Linked DNA regions of Homo sapiens: region 1 is linked to region 2. A link means that fine-mapping ties the variant in region 2 to the expression of a gene that starts in the linked region. Tissue or cell type: liver. Region 2 holds a variant in brackets; the other region holds the start of a gene. All regions are shown on one strand. Distances are between the middles of the regions.

Evidence for each region. PIP is the estimated chance that this variant, and not a neighbour inherited with it, causes the effect.
Region 1: AMN starts here. The variant in region 2 is fine-mapped to the expression of AMN in liver (GTEx, PIP 0.98).

The regions. Positions count from the first base shown.
Region 1 is chr14:102,921,292-102,923,896 of GRCh38, reverse strand. It overlaps AMN (amnion associated transmembrane protein), which reads right to left and starts at 1,234. Exons shown (of 12, transcript NM_030943.4): 1 at 1,166-1,234; 2 at 68-186. The coding sequence starts at 1,208. RefSeq lists a silencer at 811-1,010.
Region 2 is chr14:102,538,541-102,541,294 of GRCh38, reverse strand. It overlaps MIR4309 (microRNA 4309), which reads right to left and starts at 1,651; the gene lies at 1,569-1,651. The variant G/T (reference allele first, on the strand shown) is at 1,225.

The sequences.
Region 1 (2,605 bases), 380 kb before region 2:
CCCCACCGGGGCCACACGGTCTCAGGGGTCCAGGCCCATCACCGACCCCGCCGGCGCTCCCAGGCACCTTGTCCGCCGGGAACTCAACGGCGCCGCCGGCGCACGGGGTCCGGTTCTGGCTCCAGTTGGCTGCGACGTCGAAGTCCGTGTTGGGGACCCAGAGTTTGGAGACCGCCTGGGTCAGTGCTGGGGAGGAGGCGACTGAGTGCCCGGGATGCTCTCCGGGATGCTCCCTTCTCAGGGAAGGCCACCCACCCAGAGAAGTGCGGAAGGTCCGCGCGGATCACCCGGGACGCATAGGAACCCCATCCCCGGGGGCCCGGACCCAGACCCTGGTCCCTCCCGGCCAGACTGTGGGCGCCCTGCCCGGGCGCTCTCCAACGGACTTCTACTGATACCTGCAGAGCCCGCTCAAACGCGCCCTGCAGGACGCCTGCCTAGATAGCCTCCCGGCACTGCCCCCAGTTTGCCTGGCGCTGGAGCAGAGGACAGCGTTGTTAAGGACAGTGACAACTGGGGCATGGAGGAGGATGGGGCAGCACAGACCTCTTCTCGGCCTTGGAATCAGGAAGGCTTCCCGGAGGAGTCCTACCTGGGCCGGGAAGAGCTGCGACAGAGCGCAACCCGGTATGAGAAGTAAGAAGGGGCTGGGGGCGGCAGGACCAGGTCAGGCCGGCCCTGAATGTGGTGGGTGGGGTTGTCCTGAGGGAGCCGCGAGGGGTTTAGGGAAGGGGGCGCCAGGGACACGCGCCGGCCTGGTGTGAAGGCGGAGGAGGGCTCAGTGCTCCCTTGGGGACCGGGAAGCTGAGGCGGTCTGCCGAGCCCCGCAGGCGCACACTCGCTGCTCTCGGCAGGTTCTGGGGACCGCGCCCATTTCGCAGACGGAAAAACCGCGAGGGCAGGAGCCGCCGGAGGCCGGGGCTGGCCGAGGTTCCCGGAGCCCCTCCTCTCCTCTCCCGCACCGCCCGATGCACTGGCCGCGCACTTCCGGGCTGCGCACTCGCCAGACGAGGGAGGCAGGGCCGAGTTTCACGCCCCCAACCCTCCAAAGCCCTCCCTGCCCACTCCTCGGAAGATCTTCACCCTCCAGGCCTAGAGCGACCTCGGCCCTGGGTCCTGACAGACCGCTACCGTCCGGGCCCGCACCGGTGTGGTCCCGGCTCACCGCAGAGCTGCAGCCACAGCAGGACCCGGCCCAGGACGCCCATCTCGCCTCGGCTCCTTGCACCCCACCAGGAGACTTTGCCCCACTGGACCCACGTGACCAGGCAGGTCGGGTGGGGGCACCAGGGTCGGTTACACATTTACCTCCAGACCCGCCCAGGGCCGACTCTTCAGGCCCCTGGGAGGCACCTTCTCAGCCTCCCCTTACCCGCCCCTGCAGGGCCTGAACACCTTAGGTTCTCAGGAAGAAGGGCAAAGAAGAAGGGCTTGGCGAGACTGACCTACCCTGTAAAATGGGTGTCTTGCCGGGAGGGGGAATAAACGACCTTTGAATTCACCCCTTTCTCTGTCCTGTGTGCTGCTAGGGCTGAGCTAGTCTGCTCACCATTGGAACTGGGTGTCCACTTCTCCACGCAGTGCCCCTGTCCCATGGGCTGTGGGTGGTGGTTGGATGATAGAAGGAAGATCCTGGATGGAACATGGTATGTGGATGGTATAGGAGGGTGGATTGTGGATGATGGTGGAGAGTAGTGGATGGTGAGTAGGGGACAGCTGATGGACAGCAACATTGATGGTGCATGGTGTACGGCATATGGACGCATGGCAGATGAATGGTAAATGGTTGACGGGGTGGATGGTGAGTGATAGAGGGTGGATGGGTGATGAATGGATGGATGAGGATGGTGAGTGAAAAATGAATGAATGGCCGGGCGTGGTGGCTCATGCCTGTAATCCCAGCACTTTGGGAGGGTGAGGCAGGCGGATCGCGAGGTCAGGAGATCAAGACCATCCTGGCTAACGCGGTGAAACCCCGTCTATACTAAAAATATACAAAAAAATTAACCGGGCATGGTAGAAGGCGCCTGTAGTCCCAGCTACTTGGGGGGCTGAGGCAGAACGGCGTGAACCCAGGAGGTGGAGCTTGCAGTGAGCCACGATCGTGCGCTGCACTCCAGCCTGAGCGACAGAGCGAGACTCCGTCTCAAAAAAAAAAAAAAAAAAAGGAAAAGGAATGGATGGTAATCAGGGAGTGGTGGATGGATAATGGCATAAATGGATACATGGCCGACAGGTAGATCATAAAGAGTGGGTGTTGGCGGGGCACGGTGGCTCACGCCTGTAACCGCAGCACTTTGGGAGGCCAAGGCGGGCAGATCACCTGAGGTCGGGAGTTCGAGACCAGCCTGACCAACATGGAGAAACCCCATCTCTACTAAAAATACAAAATTAGATAGGCATGGTGGCACATGCCTGTAATCCCAGCTACTTGGGAGGCTAAGGCAGGAGAATCGTTTGAACCTGGAAGGCGGAGGTTGTGGTGATCGGAGATCACGCCACTGTGCTCCAGCCTGGGCAACAAGAGTGAAACCCCATCTCAAAAAAAAAAAAGTGGGTGTTAAATGGTGGATGTTTGGTGAGTGATGAATGCTGAATGGATGGA
Region 2 (2,754 bases):
GCTGTGATTGTGCCACTACACTCCAGCCTGGGTGACAGAGCGAGACTGTGGCTCATGCGTATAATCCCAGCACCTTGGGAGGCCGAGGCAGGCAGACCACCTGAGGTCAGGAGTTCAAGACCAGCCTGGCCAACGTGGTGAAACCCCGACGGAGGCTCTGTCCACAGAGCTGTCTGGCAGGTCCTTGCAACTGTACAGCGCAGCCAGCCCAGCCTCCAGGCCTAGTGCCTGGGTTAGTCATGGCCCCTCCATCACAGGCAACGCGTGGCTCTACCGGGAAGGTGCTCAGGTGGAGGAATTTCACACAAGGTGACGGGGGCCAGGGCATGCTTCCGGCAGGAAGTCAGCCCTGGAGATCTCAATACTCACATGTGTGTCTCAGTCACACTGTGTGTTTGTGTGTGCGGAACGTAGAGAGCTGATCACCTCAAGGGACATCCCAGCCCATAGCCCCCCACCGCACACACACCCCCAACGCACACACACAAACATGTTCCCAATGCAAAGCATGCAGTGTTGCCCAATGCGCTCATCCCGGAGGCAGGTGTCCGCTTCGACACCGTGTGGTGACACATGCACGACGGGGGCAGATCCCCAGCACCCGCCTTCTCATTGTGAGCCGCCTTTGTTTTGCATTCAGACACGTGGAGCCCCGGGAACCAAGCTGCAGGGCCAGTGCCTTCCAGCCTTCCAGGCCCGAAGCCTCCAGTCCCTCAGGAGCTCCTCAGGCCTTCAGGAGCCCCGGCAAGCACCCTCCGGCTCCCAAGCCCTTCCGGGCCTGCCAGCGGCCTGCTGTAGAGTGGGGTGGGAAGCCGTTGGGAGGGAGGAGCAGAGGAGTTCTGGTCTCCCCTAGCCGGGCCTCCTGCCGGGACACCTGCCAGCTGCTCCCCACCCCCGGCCTTGGCTCCTGGCCTGGCAGCCCCCGATTCCTCCCCTTCACACACTCAGGACTGCAAAGAAGGCCGGGGGAGGCCCCACTAAAGCACAGCCTCCAAGGTACACCTGGAGACTCGGGGACCTTGGGGGCCCTCAATCCCTCTGGGCCTCAGTTTCCCCCAGAAAGACAGGCCCAGAATCAAGAGGGATCTATGACAATGGGGGTGGGATTAGGCGTGTGTGTGCTTCCTGCGCATCCTGGCAGGCTGTGGGCGTTCTTGGCAGGCATCCACCAGTCCCCAGGCTCTGGAGGAGGAGGCCGGATGGGGGTGGGAGGCTGGGAGCCCC[G/T]GGGGAATGAGCTGCACCGCCCACACCGCCATAGGAGCGGCCTCCACACACCCAGCCCAGAGAGGCTGGACCCACAGGGCAGTGGCCTCAGAGGAGATGCTGGGCTCCCTTGCTGGTGTTGGGGAGGGTCGTCTTGGGTGGTCTTCCCCCTACCTTTCGCCCAAAGGTGCTCTGGGACAGACCCCTGACCACCTCCAAAGACTTGGGCCTCAGTCTCCATAGAACGAGGGGTTTCTGGACCACCTGCCAGCTGCCTGGGCAGGGCTGAGCACCAGCACTTTAGGTCCATTGAACTTTGGGGGCTGCCCAGTCCACCCCACTGCTTTCACCTCTGTCCTGGGTTACAAGAGGGGCTTCAAACCGCAGACCCTACAACCCAAGACCTCAAAACCCAGATCCTGGAATCCTAGACTCCAGAACCCCCAGACAGGAACCCGGACCAAGAATGTTCCCCAGAGCTGCTCAGGGGCCACGTAGGGCCTTTCTGTCCTTCTGTGACAAAGACACTTGTCACTCGCGCTCCAGGGATGGGGCATGGAGTGCCTGCCTTCAGAATCTGAAAGGCCTTCTCCAGAAACTCCCGGTCTCCACCCCCGGCCCGCCAAGGGGCGGGTGCATCCCACCTGCTGTGGGCTGAACCTAGTCCTGGTGGCTCTTATCAGTGCCCTGAGAGGTCCCCGGGAGGGAGCCGCATCCCACCAATGGATGAGGACACAGGAGCCCCATGGAGCTCACCCCCAGCCTGGCCTTCCCAGAACAGAAAGATGGCGGCCCCCAGGAGGCCCTCCTGGCCCTGGCCCGGGTCGGCTGAGGGCAGGGCCTGGTGACAGTTTCCGGTGTGTCCTCCGCAACAGCCTTCTCAGGCTCTCACCCTCACCCCACCCCAGAGTCTCTGTACACCCCTGCTTGGACAGCTGGGGGGCACATAGAGCATGACTCCGGCCCACCAGGGCCAGGGTGGGGGCTGCACCCCAAATGCCTTTGGCCTGAGTCCTCTAGCGGTTGGGAGGAGCCACCCTGACAGGGGCATCAGGTGATGTCCTAATTGCATCCAGTTAGGATCCAGTAGGCCTCAGTGGGCCCCAATAGCAGCTGGGGCCAGGCCTGGAGGAGGGGATCTGAGCCCTGGGCCGGCCGGGCAGCTACGCAGGACTCTGCGGGGCCGGGCATGGCCTGGCGTTTCACACGACCCAGTCCCATCCCTGGGCCTCAGTCTTCTGTGTGTGGAACAGGAACACCCCCTTGAGGGCTGTGGTGAGGACCCGATGATACTGGCGAAGTGCCCTGGGCCCAGCTGGCCCTCCTGTCTTGGTCCCGGGGCATGGTGGGAAGGGAGCTGGGGGGCAGAGTGTGGCAGGGTCATCCCCCTCCTGACTTCCTGGCGTGGCATTGAGTTGGGAAAGGTTGCAAAGGGGTGAGCTCTCCTGAACTGGTGGCCCAGGCAGCTGGGGAGGGGCAGCACAGCGCAGAGTGCCCCTGCTGGGTGCTGGGTGGGGCACCAGTGTCCAGAACGCTCAACACAGCCCTCCC